Linked DNA regions of Homo sapiens. The protein of the gene in region 3 interacts with the protein of the main gene of each other region in a biochemical or structural test. Each region holds a gene or a part of one and is shown on either strand. Other genes may lie near its edges.

Region 1 (4,097 bases), on a different chromosome or scaffold from region 3:
ACTTCAGAGTGTTTCTGTTTGTGCTGTTTTTAAATGTTAATTTTTTTAAATAATAAAACAAATAGTCCTTCCTCACTGACCTAAGAGATGCCTTTAAAGTCCTTTAACGCTCTACAACCTTGCTCAAAATTTCTGAAAGACTGATACTTAACCACAGTCTTTTATTAGATGCGGAGGTCAACTTAAGAACCAAAGTCGCAGCACTTTGGGAGGCCGAGGCGGGCGGATCACGAAGTCAGGAGTTTGAGACCACCCTGGCCAATATGGTGAAACCCTGTCTCTACTAAAAATACAAAAATTAGCCAGGTATGGTGGCATGCACCTGTAGTCCCAGCTACTCAGGAGGCTGAGGCAGAAGAATCGCTTGAACCCAGGAGGCGGAGTTTACAGTGAGCCGAGATGGCACCACTGAACTCCAGTGCACTCCTACAGAGTGAGACTCCGTCTCCAAAAAAAAAAAAAAAAGAAAAAAAAGAACCAAAGTTAGGGTTCTCCACAGAGTATAAGTGTAACCAGTGCACTTTCAGTTAATTCAGAATGGAAAAAAATGCTTTCTCAGATAAATGTTGCCTTACTTTGCTGAGAGATTTGGTAACTGCAATTAAACAGTGATACCACAGCCACAGCAACATAAAATACTGCTACAGCTAACTAACTGGGCCTGTCAGTTCCTTATTTTAGCACAGTAGGTAGTATAGGAATGCCTGCTAGTTTTAAATGATGGGTAATGGTAACACATCAGCAACTGTCTTGCCCCACTGTAACAAGAAAAATGAGTTTCATTACAAGTTCTCTCTTCTGGAAAATCCAAAGCCCTTTACAGATATCTTTACAACAACATCTCAAATACAATAATGATGTTGAGAGATATTATTCCACATTTACAACAAACAGACAGTAGTGTGGTTTCAAACAATCCAATAACCCATTATCTTGCTTGGTGCAGTTTTAGAAAGAATATCGAGGATAAAAAAGATTCTATTATATAGTTTAATGTGTCATTTCACTGTGAGAGCCAAGCCTATAGAATATAGAATATAGCCTTCTGAGGAAAAGACCTACTATAATGCCTCAGATTTAAATAGTATTTTACAGCCTACAAAGCACTTATTCATTTTACAGTCTCATATGAAGATTGCATTCTAGTCAAGGGACCAAGTCTATCATCAAGCTGTAAGGCCAAAGTCAGTAACTATCTCAACCACACAAATATTCATAGAATGCCCAGACATCCAAATAGGAAGAGAGAAAGTCAACTACCCCTGTTTGCAGACGACATGATCCTATATCTAGAAAACCCCAGAGTCACATAATTAAAGAGCTTCTGCACAGCAAAAGAAACTATCATCAGAGTGAACAGGCAACCTACAGAATGGGAGAAAATGTTTGCAATCTACCCATCTGCCCAAGTCTAATATCCAGAATCTACAAGGAACTTAAACAAATTTACAAGAAAAAATCAAACAGCCCCATTAAAAAGTAGGCAAAGGATATGAACAGACACTTCTCAAAAGAAGACATTTATGTGGCCAACAAACATAGAAAAAAGCTCACCATCACTGATCATTACAGAAATGCAAATCAAAACCACAATGAGATACCATCTCACACCAGTCAGAATGGTGATTATTAAAACGTCAGGAAACCATAGATGCTGGTGAGGCTGTGAAGAAACAGGAACGCCTTTACACTGTTGGTGGGATGTAAATTAGTTCAACCTTTGTGGAAGACAGTGTGGCGATTCCTCAAGGATCTAGAACTAGAAATAATACCATTTAACCAAGCAATCCCATTACTAGGTATATACCCAAAGAATATAAGTCATCCTACTATAAAGACACATGTACACATATGTTTATTGCAGCACCATGTACAATAGCAAAGACATGGAACCAACCCAAATGCCCATCAATGATAGACTGGATAAAGAAAATGTGGTACACGTACACCATGGAATACTATACAGTCATAAAAAAGGAATGAGATCATCTCCTTTGCAGGGACATGGATGAAGCTGTAAGCCACCATCCTCAGCAAACTAACACAGGAACAGAAAACCAAACACTGCATGTTCTCACTCATAAGTCAGAGTTGAACAATGAGAACACATGGACACAGGGAGAGGAACACCACACACCAGGGCCAGTCAGGGGGTGGGGGGGTGAGGGGAGGGAGAACATTAGAAGAAATAGCTAATGCATGCAGGGGTTAAAACCTAGATGACGGGTTGATAGGTGCAGCAAACCACCATGGCACACGTATACCTACATAACAAACCTACACATTCTGCACTTGTATCCCAGAACTTAAAGTAAAATTAAAAAAAAAAAAGAAAGAAAACCCCATAGTCTCAGCCCAAAAGCTCCTTAAGCTAATAAACAACTTTAGCAAAGTCTCAGGATATAAAATCAATGTGCAAAAATCACTAACATTCCTATACACCAACAACAGTCAGGCCAAGAGCCAAACCAGGAATGCAGACCTATTCACAATTGCCCCCCACCACACACACACACACACACACACACACACACACACACACGTAGGAATACAGCTAACCATGGAGGTGAAGGATCACTACACGAAGAACTATAAAACACTGCTCAAAGAGATCAGAGATGACACAAGCAAATGGAAAAACATCCCATGCTCACGGATAGGAAGAATCAATATCATTAAAATGCCCATACTGCCCAAAGCAATTTACAATTTCAATGATATTCCTATTAAACTACCACTGACATTCATCACAGAATTAGAAAAAACTGTTTCAAAATTCATATGGAACCAAAAAATAGCCCAAATAGCCAAAGCAATCCTAAGCAAAAGAACAAAGCTGGAGGCATCATGCTACTCGCTACTCATCTTCAAACTACACTACAGGGCTACAGTAACCAAAACAGCATGATACTGGTACAAAAACAGACACATAGACCAATGGAACAGAACAGAGAACCCAGAAATAATGCTGCACACCTACAACTATCTGATCTTCGACAAATCTGACAAAACAAGCAATGGGAGAAGGATTGCCTATTCAATAAATGGTGCTGGGATATCTGGCTAGCCATATGCAAAAGATTGAAAGTGGACCCCTTCTTTACACCATATACAACTGAAGATGGATTAGAGACTTAAATGTAAAACCAAAAACTATAAAAACCCTGCAACACAACCTACATAATACCATTCAGGACACAGGAATGGGCAAAGATTTCATGATGAAGACACCAAAAGCAACTACAATAAAAGCAAAAATTGACAAATAAAATCTAAACTAAAGAGCCTCTGCACAGCAACAGAAACTATCAACAGAGTCAACAGAAAACCTACAGAATGGAGACAATTTTTGGAAACTTTGCATCTGACAAAGATCTAATATCCAGCATCAATAAGGAACTTAAACAAATGTACAAGTTAAGTACCTCATATTATCTGTATGAATGGAGTTCAGGGTTCTACCAATGTGGAAAAAAATTGTCTGTGAGCAATGACACAGTAGTACAAGAAAGATTTGGTTGGGAAATTTTTCAGAATAATATTGGCAGGCAAAATGAAACTTAACAGAATTGTAACTCGAAGTGATTAGAAATACTTCAGCACAATTTTATGTGTCTGCAGTGGCTCACGCCTAGAATTCCAGCACTCTGGGAGGCCGAGGGGGACAGATCACTAGAGGCCTGAAGTTTGAGACCAGTCTGGACAAGATGGCGAACTCTGTCTCTACTAAAAATACAAAACTTAGCCGGACATGATGGCATGCACCTGTAATCCCAGCTACTTGGGAGGGTGAGGCATGAGAATCACCTGAACCCAGGAGGCAGAGGTTGCAGTCAGCTGAGATCCCGTCCCTGCACTCCAGCCTGGGCAACAGAGCGAGACTCTGTCTTAAAAACAAAAAAACAAAACAAAAAAAAAAGAATCCCAGCGTATTTGGAGGGTGGTGATCTAGAAAAAGAGAGGTGGAAGTTCAGATTTGAGGGGTAAGAAAGAGCCATAGCATCAAACTTTGTAAATGAAGGTAATACACTTAGATTGTATTTTCAATGCAATGGAAGCCACTGCAGGAAGTCATACAAAATCTGGACTTGTATTCA
Region 2 (4,097 bases), on a different chromosome or scaffold from region 3:
GTGCCACTGTACTCCAGCCTGGGCGACAAAGCAAGACTGTCTCAAAAACAAACAAACGAACAAACAAAACCAATGACCAGGCTGTACCTCAAACCAATTAAAGCAGAATCTTTAATTGGCTTTAGTAATGTTTAAAACTCCCCAGGTAATTCCAATAGGCATTCAAGTTTAAGAACCAGCACCTCAGATGATTATTATAAAGATTAAAAAGCTGAATAAATGTGAAAGTGCTATGCAAACTGAAATCCTACATTATCACTCTTATTTTTTCATATGCTCAACAATTGCTTCTCAATATGCTCAACAATGTGATTGCTCAACATTGCTTCTTATTATTCATTCCTTTCTTCTGACTTCATTTCCTTCTTTCTAAAGTACAACTTATGGGTTCTTTAAGTGACAGAACGTGACTGGAAAACTCAATTTCTGTGTGCAAAATAATTTCATGCTCATTCTTGAATGATAGTCTGACTAGCTGGAGAACTCTGGGTTAAAGTCACAGTCATGAGCCTCTTAATGCTTTGGCCAACAATATACTGTGTATCTGACAGTAGTCAGAGCAACAGGCTACACTAAATAGCCTAGGCATGCAGTAGGCTGTACCATCAAAGTTTGTGTAAGTACACTCCACGATGTTCAAACAATGACAAAACTGCCTAATACACATATTACAGAATGTATCCTCATCATTTTAAGTGACACATGACTGCATTTTCTCTGAGCATTTCACTAAACGCTGGCCTCAACTGTTGTGTTATTGGGGAAGTAGCTGTCAAGTCTACCTGCTAATCCTCAGTAGGTAATCTGTTCCCCGAGGTTGCCTGTAGGAGTTTGTCTTTGCTTCGTGTCCAGTAGTTTCACAGCAACTTGTACAAGTGGAAGAAGGGGGACACTGCTTGGAATTCTGGGGGGATGGTTCTTTACTCTGAGAATATAGGTCTTTCATCAACTCTCGAAAATTCTCAGCCATTATTTCTTTGAATATCGCTTCTCCTATACTCTCTCTAGTCTTTCCTGGTAAGTTCATGTATATGTATACGTACATTTGTGTGTGTGTGTGTGTGTGTGTGTGTGTGTGTGTGTGTGTGGATGTGCATACACACAAACATACTGAACCTTCTCAGTCTACCCTCCAAATGTTAATATTTCTTTCATATTCCCTCTTTGATCTTTCTGTGCCACATTCTGAGCAATTTCCTCAGTATAGTGTAGTCTGATTAAAACAGGTTAACTCTAGTCCAATTGCATGGGTCAGAATTCTGATTCCACCATTTATTAGCTGTGTGACTTTGGAGAAGGTTACTTAACCTCTCTGTGATTCAGTTTCTTCATTTGTAAAATAAAGAAAATAACAGTGCTATCCTCAAAGGATTACTGTGAGAATTAAACAATATATGTTAAGTGTTTACCACAGTGCCTGGTACTTGATGAGTAAATAATCTCTTTTTTGTTTTATTGGTTGTTCTGTTTAACCAGTCCATTGTGCGTGTTATTTTAACTTAGCAATGTTCTAAACAAAGTTTAATTTTGGTTTACAAACTGGAATAGATTTTCTATAGCTTCCAGTTTTCTTAAAGTTTTATAATAATTTTAGACTTACAGAAGAGCTGCAAAGCTAGTACAGAGTTCCTACATGCCATTCACCACCTTCTGCTATTGTGAACCTTTTACATAACCACAGTATAATAATAAAGAAATCAACTAAAATATCAACACTGGTACAATACTATTAACTAAACTACAGACTTCATTCCATTTCTCCAGTTTTTCCACTAATGTCCTTTTTCTGTCCCAGGATCTAGTATAGGATACTCTTGCTTTCCGTCTTCACGTCTTCTTAATTTCCTCCAATCTGTGACAGTTTCTTAGTCTCTCTTCCTTGACAGTTTTGAAGAGTGCTGGTCAGGTATCTTGCTGCATATTCCTCGATTTGGGTTTGTCTGATGTTTTCTCATTATAGACCGAAGTTACGGATTTGGAGGAAGAATACCTCACAGGTTATATATATGCCCTTCTCATTGCACCATATCAAGAGGCACATATCAGTCTTATCAATGTATTATTAATAGTGATGTTAACCTTGGTCATTGGGTAGAGGAGGTGCATTGTAAAGTTGCTATTTTTCCTTTTTCATACTCTACTCATCAGAAGTGAGTCAACAAGTCCAGCTCACACTCATGGAAAGTTTTAAACATTAATCACTGTATTTTTCATTTCTGGCATTGCTATTTGGTTCTTCTGTCATAGTCACAGTCTTCTCTTGTGGGTCTGATTTCTTCTAATTTTAATTATTTTCAATATACTTAATTTTGTATCTTTTCAGATTTTCACTGCATTACCTAAATCTTCTGGAGCACTAATCCTTCTGCTTGTGTCTGCTAACTAGTTCATAATGCATTGTTTCACTGTGTGTTTCTTAATTTTGGATTGTGACCTTATTACAGTGGGGCATTATGTTCAGGAATCCAATGGGAGCTAGAGTTTGAAAGTGTTCTTCCAGTGCAGCTCTGTGACTACTTCCGTCAAAAATAAAAACTGATTTGGTAAAGCTTTTTTAACTTTCTAATCCTGTGGGTTCCTGGATAACATAGGGAGTATAGACTCTAAACCTGTGGAATGTCCAGGTTGAAGGGCTTGATTATTCAGGAGAGGTTTTTGTTGTCTCTTGGTGATGACAATTTTTATTCTTGTCTATCCTTTTACTAAGGATACTGACATCTGAAGTTCTTAGCTTTAAGAAGAATCTCAGTTCAAACTCCCCACTGGGTGGACCCAAGATCTCACTTCCAGTTTTCACATGGGAGTTATAAATCCAAATCAGTAGGTTACCAGAATGAATAGTGACCCACTGAAAACAGCCATGGGATTAGTTCACAATATTTCTTCTTTAACTTAGGGCTTCCTCATTATTTCTGGCATCTGAGAATCTTTAAGTTGGATAGATTTTATCTGGCATTTCTAGGTATTTGTAACAGGATAATTTTGTTCCTTTAACCAACTAATTTGATAAAAGAAAAGTGTTTCCTGTCTTTTTTAACTGTTTACTCAGAAACAGAAAAAAAAAAATTATAAAAACACAGGTATAAATTTTGCTACCTGTTTTTCTTACCCTTTCCAATATTTCCAACAATAAATTCTGAAACCCTATTACATACACTAGAGATGTGATCAAGAACATCAAAGTCTTTCCCTTTTAATGATCTTTAGAGAAACAAAAATTAAAGAACTCAGTGCTAAGAAGCTGAGTGGAATATATATGTGAAACAGACAGATAAGATTCAGAAGGAACAGAGCCCTAAGTTAGGAATCAGGACTTTGAGATTCAAGTCCTACTCCTATGACTAAGTATCAAGTGACCTCAAAAATAAAAGGTTGTACTCAATGATCCCCAACATTCTACGATTCTGCTTAATTCATGAAGTTACACATATCGGATGTTCTTATTTATTTGCTCACTTGTCATTCAATCTGTCTAACATTGATAAGGAAGCTATTTGAATTTTTGGTCCACTTACTAAAATATCTTTCTAACATGGAAATAAGTATGATTATTACACTAAATATAAATTTTCTATGTGTCTTTCCTTTATTAATACTGTAAATGGCATTAAGACATTCATTTATAAATTTTAAATGCAAATTAAAAACAAATCTCTCCACTAACTTGGCATTTATTAATACAGAATTCACAATGTACAACTTTGTAAGAAATTAACAAGGAAAAAGCTGAACTATTTAGGGTACACTGTATACTACAAAGAAGGCAGAAATCAATTCATTTCCAATCCAGTATAATGGTCTCTGTATACTTTTTTAAAGTTTATATTTAGTTCTTTTGAAAATAATTTCCTGTACATATGAGTATGTGATTCTTAGACTTCTCACAATGTTTTATTAGAGAGAAAAGTAGACTTTTTCTCATATTTTACCTTTTTTCTGGATCTTTTTGAAGGCACAATGAAATCATTTTTCTAAATGATTTTCCATATTTTTTCAGCATTTCTTTATCTTGAACACCAGTTTCCAAAGAAGGAGGATCGTTCTGCAGTGTCAGCATTAAAACCTGCAAGAATTTTCAATATACTATAAACTTGTGA
Region 3 (5,215 bases):
AGGAAGAAACTGCTGCAAAAAGGCCAAACTGTTTTTTTGGTTTAATTACTAAAGATGAACATTTTTACTTTAGCATCAAGATTGGTAAACCGCCTCCTAAATACCTACATTTCTGTAAGTCTTGAAGGATTGTAAGCACTAATGGCATGCATGTCTGATTTATATATTACAAAATAAAAATTAATTTTCAAAGAGGTTGACTCTTAACTAGTTTGCTTAGCCAGTTAATACCATGCCTTGAGTCAGAGATCAGACAGAGTCACCTTATAGACAAGCTATTGTCATAGAGAAATCTGGTTAACAATCCATTGAAACTGATACACACATTTAGAAGATATATCAAAGACAGAGTAAAAAAACAAAATGGTAAATTCCACATCAGCTATCTCTACTTCTAGAAAAGCAATTCAAAGATGATGTTTTTCTATTAACTAATATTAGCATTACTTCATTGGTATAGGGCAATATAATCAGAACAGAAAGGAGTTATGTTTGTAGGATTTTTCTCTGTCAGCATCTATATTTATAAGACCCCATTTAGATAATTCAGTACCTTTAAAGCAATAACAATGTCATGTCCCTAAAATGCACAATTTATGTAAATAGTCAGGTTTTGCTTCTGGTATAATTCCTAGGTTTAAAACTTTTTTGTTAGGTTGAAGAACAAGCAAGCACTACAGAAAGAGTATTTCAAGACAGACAGTATCAAATTGATGCTGCAATTGTTCGAATTATGAAGATGAGAAAGACACTTAGCCACAATCTCCTTGTTTCAGAAGTGTACAACCAGTTGAAATTTCCAGTAAAGGTAGGTACTTCTGTGTTTTCCTATTGAGCGTGTTATAAATAAAAGAAAGTACATTAGATTTTCAGACACAAATCTTGCAAACATAAAGCGTCATGACCATTTAGAGAGAGAAAAGTTTTAATTTCCCATGTTGATGCATATGATTTCCAAAAAAAAAAACTTTGTTGGCATATGTGGGCAGCAGTGACAAAAGGGAAAAATAACAGAAAAGCCTGGATACCTGAAAGTTTAACTGCTAAATGAGTGTTTGAAATTTTCAAGTTTATTCACTATATTTCTTTTGAACTTCTTGGTTGGTTATTTACTTCTTTTCCTCTTGAAATACCATGGTATTTATTGAAATACCATGGTATTTGACAGATTTAGTTATTGTGGATTGAGTTAAATCTCCTGTTTAGTTAGCTTATATAAGAGATCATCTGTTAAAAACCATACAGATAACTAGTCATGATTAAGCATCTTTTTGAAAAGTGTAGTGATAGTTCTGGTAAACTGAAATTGGTCATTAAATGGAAACGTTCCATTGTGAATGACCAATAATAAAGTCACTTAATGTGATGTTGTACTGGCCTTTTTTCCAAGTTTTAGGAGGTAGATAGCCAAACCCTTGGATGATAAACATTGATAGAGTTTGAATAGACTGCTAGCTATTAGGGTTCTTATGAGCTTTGGACTTTCATAAATCACTTCACCATGCTGATCTTGTTTCCTCTTTTGTAAAACTGAGATAATAATAGTACTTACCTTGTAGGATTATTGTGAGGTTTAAGTGAGATCATGAATGTAAAAATCTTAGCACTGGACCTGGTACATAATAAGCACTCGGTAGCTCTTAGTTCTAATAAGGTAAGCATTTTCTTTTCTCCAAACCTAATATCGCACTCCTCATTACCACCCTCTCACCCTCATGCTCTGCTTAATAGTCATTTCACCTCAAGCCAGAGAGATCACTGATGCTGGGGAAATTAGGGGATCGCTGTAGTTAATATTGTGCTGATATTCTAGGTCTTTCACCATAATTAAGAGAAGTCATCTGATTTCCCAACCTTGGGATTACTGGATAAAATTTTCACTGCTGTATCAGACTACTTCCCCTCTTTTCCCCTCTTGAACAAGTGGTCATTTTACTTATCCTGAAAAACTTTCTATTAGCAAACAAGATTATATTATATTTACAGACTAGATACATAAGATATATAGTGGAATTTTGTCATCCAGGAGCTTAGAATGCAATCATGAAGATAAAGCTACAAGCTTTCTTGATTACTTTTAAATCACAGGATGCAGAAATCCAAGTCACTTAGATGCACTAAACCAGAAATATGAAGATCTAAATTATGAGGTACTTCATTTATCAAGCCATTTCATGTAGTTTTTTTTTGAGATGGAGTCTCGCTCTGTCATCCAGGCTGGAGTGCAGTGGCATGATCTTGGCTCACTGCAGCGTCTGCCTCCCGGGTTCAAGCAATTCTTTTGCCTCAGCCTCTCGAGTAGCTGGGACCACAGGTGCGCACAATCACGCCTGGCTAATTTTTGTGTTTTTAGTAGAGACGGGGTTTTACCATATTGGTCAGGCTGGTCTCGAACTCCTGACCTCATGATCTGCCCACAGCCTCCCAAAGTGCTGGGATTACAGGCATGAGCCACTGCACCTGTCCAGTATTCTTTTAAATAGTGATTTTTTTTTTTTTTGAGATGGAGTCTTCTTGCTCTGTCACCCAGGTTGGAGTGCAGTGGCGCGATCACGTTTCACTACAACCTCCACCTCCCGGGTTCAAGCAATTCTCCTGCCTCAGTCTCCCTGGTAGCTGAGACTACAGGCGCCCACCACCACACCTGGCTAATTCTTGTATTTTTAGTACAGATGGGGTTTTGCCATGTTAGCCAGTCTGGTCTCAAACTTCTGACCTCAGGTGATCCACCCATCTTAGCCTCCCAAAGTGCTGGGATTACAGGCATGAGCCACCACACCCGGTCTAAATAGTGATTTCATCAGTACGTTTTAAATCTTAATTTATAAAAATGAAGCCAACTAACTCTTGCCCAAAGTAAAGGTGTGCTTCATGAACTATCTTGACAAAACTAGTATTCTGTGTCCTTAAACTACCTTACAGTGCTCATGTGAAGTTACAATAAATGTAGTCTTTTGTATTTAACCACGCGAAGGGTAGCTGCTTCTGGCATGACCTCTTTAAAATAGAAAAGTAATAGAAAGTATTCCGTAACAATATGACAAGGATGTGACAGTTTAATGTATGTATAGTATATAGTACAGGTTGAACACCTTTAATGAGAATCCAAAATCTGAAATGCTCTAAAATTGGAAACTTTGAATGCCAACATGATGCCACAGGTGGAAAATTCCACACTTTACCTCATTTGACAGGTTGCAGTCAAAACTTTGTTTCATGCACAAAAGGTATAAAATTATCTTCAGGCTATGTAAGGTATGTATGAAACATAGATGAATTTTGTGTTTAGACTTGGGTCCCATCTCCATGGTATCTCACTATGTATATGCAAATATACCAAAATGAAAAAGTCAGGACCAGGCATGGTAGCTCACACCTGTGAGTACTGGGATTCCAGTACTTTGGGAGGCTGAGGCTGGGGGGATTACTCCAGAACAAGAGTTTAAGGTCAGCCTGGGCGACATAGCAAGACCCTGTCTATTAAAAAAATTAAAAGCTCCAAAAAAAAATCAAAAATCAAAAACACTTTTGGCGTTAAAGAATCTTCAACATACCTGGGCACGGTGGCTCATCCCTGTAATCCCAGCACTTTGGGAGGCTGAGGCAGGTGGATCACCTGAGGTCAGGAGTTCAAGACCAGCCTGGCCAATATGGTGACACCCCATCTCTACCAAAAATACAAAAATTAGCCAGGCGTGGTGGCTTGTGTCTAGTCCCAGCTACTCGGGAAGCTGAGGCAGAAGAATCACTTGAACCCAGGAGGTGGAGGTTGCAGTGAGCCAAAGTGGTGCCACTGCAGTCCAGCCTGGGTGACAGAGCGAGACTCCGTCTCAAAAAAAAAAAAAAAGAATCTTCAACGTGTATAAAACATTTTTTAACCTGGTTTATTTTCATGATACTTTTCTCTAAAAAAGAGATTTAAATAAATAAAAATTTTAAAAAAGGAGATTAAATTCATGAGCCGAAACTGTTGTCTTTTTAATGGGGTATTAACTAAATGGGCTTGAGCCAATGATAATGAACTTTACATTGAAAATTTGCCTTCTCTTACAGCCTGCTGATCTTAAGAAGAGAATAGAATCTTTAATTGACCGGGACTACATGGAAAGAGATAAAGAAAATCCAAACCAGTACAACTATATTGCATAGAATGTTGGCCTTGCAGCATTTGGTGTCATATGCAGTAGCCAGTGGATAAACTAACCTGTTGATTCAATATTATTTGACTCCTTTTTTACTACCGATGACCAAATGAAGCAGTGTAATTAATGGAAATAGTTGAGTGGACTTTTTCTCAGTGGTTAACATGCCCATTTTAAAGAGTAATACTTACCTTTAAGAAGAATGTTGTTGAACTCTTTGCATGTTATTTAGTATGATGTGCAGAAAACACTTAAGAACGTACCTGGTCTTCATGAATTCCTCTTTGGAACTGGGAAAGAGATCCCTGTGGCTATTAAAAAGGGGGGAGGGTTCTTACACACCATTAATTATGAAGCAAAAGGTTTATTTGCTTAAAATGTCATTTAAAGATACTTAAACTGCATGCAAACTTTATTTACTGTACAGAGTTCTGGATGTATTTATCAAATAGAAAAACCACCCTTGACTTGGTTGTTCACCCGTTTTGTGATTTCCCTTGAAAAGAGAAATGAATTGTCATAGCTATTGATATTTTACTAGGTGATGTTCTGTTACACTGAAAGGGATGTTTTTTAAAAAAAATTATTTGGAAACAAGTTTTCAAGTAGGGGGACAGTTGCTTACATAATATCTTGTATATTCACATCCTAAAAATTTTCATTTATGAGTATGGGATGTGTGTATATGGCTTAGCCCCAAGTTAACTGTGCTGATTAACAAGTACTTATAAAAATAGCTAAAGTAGAAAATTAATGATCAGTTGTACTAGAGGAACATCATAGAAGAGAAAAATCCAACTCTTTATATTAAAAATGAATACAATAAGAAAATTGCAAAAGAGACCAAAATGAACGTGTTTTGTAAATTGTTACAGGAGCAAAAACTTTGCAACTAGTTTTCAACATACTTTAGACTTTAAATGTTGTTTGGACAGTTTTGTCTTCAACTTGGACCAATTGTAGATTGTTACAGGCTTCCTAGGATTTAGCATTCCTATTTTCTCTACCAAAGTTTTTTTTAGAAGCATCCCAACTCTTCTCTTTGTTGATAAATAAGCCTTTCCTGTCATCTT
Region 4 (4,097 bases), on a different chromosome or scaffold from region 3:
ACAGAACCAGAAACTCTGGGGTGGAACCTAACATCTGTACTTTAAACAAGGCCTTCCCTCAGGTGATCATAATGCCAGCTAAACTCTGAGAACCACAGGGTTAGAGGATAACTTATACTAATCAAGCTTCAATTTTCTGATTTCTAAATCTTCAGTAACTATGAACACATACACACACACCATATTAAATCATTTTTCAGCTGAATTTCTCAAATATTTGTGGAATACCTTTCAAATTGCATTACTGTAGCACCTTTTTAATATAAATGAAAATACTGCAGTAGAGAAAACAAGGTATCTTGAAACTATGAGAATCCCGAGCCTCTTTAAAGGCATTAAAAAGTGCTTCCAGAAGAGATTTCCTACTGGGAAGAAGCTATAACATGGCTGCCTTCATTACTCCCTGAAAAACAACCTCAGCCAAGGAACAATTTGTTAATGGAGTACATTATGACAACATAGCGCATTCATAGCTAGTATTTCTCTTTCCTAATATTAAGAAGCTATTTAAAATTAAGTAGTGTTAGCATTTACAGATACCTGTTTGGTGATCGTCTTGGCCAATGTCTTCTGTTAGGTTCTGAAAGAAATATGTTCGTTATTACGAAGAAATCACATACCGTTAGCATTTTCATAAACAACTGATATCCTAATATCTAGAATCTAAATTTTTATCAAATACACTTATACAAAATGACTACTTCAAACAGTTGGTAATTTTGTCTTTAAAAGAATGACTTACCAGCTTATTAAGGGTGTGGTAGATCTTATGAATATTTGCCAGTGTTGAGAGATGAGAGTTCAGCTGAAAATCTTGAAAAGAAAAAGGAAAAATGTCAGCGTCATTTATTTCCAATATTGTAAAAAAACAAACTCAGAAAATAAACAAATGTTTTGATATAATTAAATACTATCTCAATTAATTTGACACTAAAGTTTTTTAAAAACATGCAATTAGTGACCTCCTAGAAATAGTCTGACAATAAAGTTAAATTCCCAACCAAATGTTAAAGTTCATGAAATTTTCATGTGAATTCTAAGGTAAAACAAAAAGTACTTCAGTAGTTATAAAATCCTGCCAGCAGTGAACTTGAACTTAATAGAAAGATAAGTCTCAAATGAAATGTTCACTTTCCCCTCTCTTCCCTAGAATTACTGGTACAATTAAGTAAGCTCATGGCAAGAAAATGATAGAAAAGCATCCCAACATTAGTATTTATTTTTTCTTTTCCTTTTTTTGAGACAGGATCTCACTACGTTGCCCAGGCTGAAGTGCAGTGGTGCAATCATGGTTCACTGCAGCCTCAGACTCCCAGGCTCAAGTGATCTGCCTGAGCCTGCATGGTAGCTGGGACTACTAGTGTGCACCATCATGCACAGCTAATTTTTCTTTTTTTTTTTCTTGTAGAGACAGGGTCTTTCTATGTTTCCCAGGCTGGTCTTGAACTCCTGGGTTCAAGTGATCCTCCTGCCTCAGCCTCCCAAAATGTTGGGATTAAAGGTGTGGGCCACTACGCGCAGCCTCAACTTGAAGTAAAGTATGTTTGCATATATATTAGGCAATAAAAATGTAAGCTGAAAGTTTATTAATAATTTCATATATAAGTACCACTGGAAGTATTTTCACAAAATATCAGGATTTACATTAGTTCCTTCTTTCCTATTAAAGGTTAGTATGAAAATGACCATGAAAAGATATTGTAACTCTCCAAGTTATACCATTCTGACAAAAAGAAAGAAAGAAAAAAAGCTCCCTTTACTGAAACATTTTATTTAGGACACGTATCAGATCCAAAGAACAGATCCAAAGAGCAGGTGCTACAATATCAGGTGTCTGTGCTTGGGCTGGATCCTCTGTGCTGCTACTCTGAACCCTGAAAACAAGCTGGCCTCCCTGTTCACAGTTAGAAAGCTTTACTTTCTCTTCTAAAGCTTGTTGGGCATCCAGTTCTGAGTAGGTCTGCAGGGCAGAGGGGCTGGCAGAAGCAGAGCCCCTCACATTCACATGCAGTGTCAGGAACAGCAGGTCATACCTGTATACATACATGTGCATATGCACTGTTCACAGTCATAGCCATATAGAATGGTCCCCAAAACCAGCATTTTGTGCTGAGAGACAGCCAGAGCAGGGCCTCAAGCTCTAAATGGCCCTCCAATATAGACATGCTTGAATTGCTTAGCATCTGAATAGCCCAGCCATGCTTAAGGTAAATGATGACATAAAGTGGCTGAGAATCTGGATTTTTCATCTAAATACGACTGCACAGAGGTTTAGAAAAGTATGTGTATTATACACCTATTTATTTACATTTATATTTATTAAACGTGAACAGGGGTAGAAGCTAGAAGCTACAGCCCTCTCACCAGCAAGAGGCCTCTCAGGACCAGCAAGAGGTGCTGAGGAGCTTGAACATTCAACTCTTGCACCTCCACCCCATCCACTACCAAGCCATAGCCCCCTTTTTGTACTCTCTCAGATTAAATATAGGAAGACAAATGATACATTCCATTATCACCTTAAAATATGAAGTTAAACTCTTGGGCCCCCAAAAAAACAAAAAGCAAAAACTGAGAAAACTTTAGCCTCTTGATTCTCTTTTCACTGAGGGTAAGGGAGGGGAGAGAAAAAGGGGCTTGCCAAAAGCCATTCCAGCAATGAGGTCTCTTCTAACTCTCCAGGCTATGCTTTTGTCATTTCACCACCCTGCTGTTAATTAAACTCCCAAAATTCCCATAAGAGAATCTAAATAAACCAAAACTGTTATATCTTTCTCCCTCCTTTATATAAATGTGGAAGAAGTAGAAAAGACAAGAAACACAAGTTATCCTCAATCTGGAATTCCAGGACTTCGGTGAGCTGGGCCCAACTCATACTCCAAACATCTTTCACCACCCCACTCCACAAAACCCTTCCTTCCAACCCCACATTCTGCCCACTGCCCTTCCTACACCCAAGAGAATTCAAATGTGTGCACACACTTGCACACACACACAAAACCACTCTATTCCTGTCAAAAATCCACTTTGCTTCACAACCTGACTCTGGAGTCTAACAGCTGGTTCAAATCTCAGGTCTACCAATTTTCTCATCTGTAAAGTGAGGATAAAAAATTCTCCTTCATAATGTTGTTGTATGGTTGAAAATATTTATCAGACACCTATTACAATGTCTAGGTATGTCAGGTACCCATTACAATACCTGGAAGATAGTAAGTGCTCAATAAAAGACATCAATTCCGACTATATTTACTTACACCATTCTCCATACCACACAGCTGTCTAAAATAGTCTCTAACTTTTCCTAGGTTCAATTCTCGCCTTACATCAATGATCCCAAGGTCAGAGCTTCCTCTGTAATTGAGGCAGGTGGCCTGGTACATCTTTTAGCCTATGATGGTGATATAGTTTGGATATGTCCCCACCTAAGTCTTATGTTGAACTGTAATTCTCAGTGCCAGAGGTGGGGCCTGGTGAGAGGTGTTTGGATCATGGGGGCGGATCCCTCATGGCTTAGTGCTGTCTTTGAGACAGTGAGTGAGTTCTTATGGGGTTCAGTCATTTAAAAGTGTGTGGCACCTCCTCTCACCCTTTCTCTCTCTCGCTCCTGCTTTCGCCATGTGGTGTGCCTGCTCTCCATTCACCTTCCTCCACGATTGTAAGACTCTCTAGAAGCCAAGCAGATGCCAGCACCATACTTCCTGTAAAGCCTGCAGAACCGTGAGTCAATTAAACCTCTTTTCTTTTATAAATTACCCAGTCTCAGGTATTTCTTTATAGTAATGCAAGAATGGCACTGCGACTCATATACCAGCAACTGATGTTCATAATGTTGACTGCAGATAATCACAACACACAGGAACAAAAATACAGATATTATGTTTAAAATCAGGTTCCACGTATGAAGTTTTACTTTACTAAAGGCAACAAGAGTAAACAGGTTCATTTCACAAATACATAATATATGTCACCAATTATCCATTTCTATATCCAATCCCTATTGCTACCACATCATCATCACTTCAACTAAAAAAAGAAAAAAGAAAAAGGAAGAAATGAAACCAGTAACATGGATAATTTTTCTTTCGTCTCATCAACAT

What was found. Proteins that work in one complex are often made in the same cells at the same time.
Region 1: of the proteins of CUL4B (region 3) and ST7, one has a biochemical effect on the other in vitro, tested with the Homo sapiens proteins (one study listed by BioGRID).
Region 2: the proteins of CUL4B (region 3) and OXSR1 interact in a test that uses a peptide from one of them, tested with the Homo sapiens proteins (one study listed by BioGRID).
Region 4: the proteins of CUL4B (region 3) and DCUN1D4 form a complex in vitro, tested with the Homo sapiens proteins (one study listed by BioGRID).

Annotation. Positions count from the first base shown.
Region 1 is NC_000007.14:116,960,001-116,964,097, reverse strand, and holds part of ST7 (suppressor of tumorigenicity 7 protein), read right to left. Parts: intron 1-4,097. UniProt on the Homo sapiens protein: May act as a tumor suppressor.
Region 2 is NC_000003.12:38,224,537-38,228,633, reverse strand, and holds part of OXSR1 (serine/threonine-protein kinase OSR1), read right to left. Parts: intron 4,064-4,097; coding exon 3,930-4,063; intron 1-3,929. UniProt on the Homo sapiens protein: Effector serine/threonine-protein kinase component of the WNK-SPAK/OSR1 kinase cascade, which is involved in various processes, such as ion transport, response to hypertonic stress and blood pressure.
Region 3 is NC_000023.11:120,525,695-120,530,909, reverse strand, and holds part of CUL4B (cullin-4B), read left to right. Parts: intron 1-655; coding exon 656-808; intron 809-4,053; coding exon 4,054-4,149; 3' UTR 4,150-5,215.
Region 4 is NC_000004.12:51,860,153-51,864,249, reverse strand, and holds part of DCUN1D4 (DCN1-like protein 4), read right to left. Parts: exon of another isoform or gene 3,618-4,097; coding exon of another isoform or gene 3,587-3,617; intron 2,541-3,586; exon of another isoform or gene 2,517-2,540; intron 814-2,516; coding exon 743-813; intron 581-742; coding exon 541-580; intron 1-540. UniProt on the Homo sapiens protein: Contributes to the neddylation of all cullins by transferring NEDD8 from N-terminally acetylated NEDD8-conjugating E2s enzyme to different cullin C-terminal domain-RBX complexes which are necessary for the activation of cullin-RING E3 ubiquitin ligases (CRLs).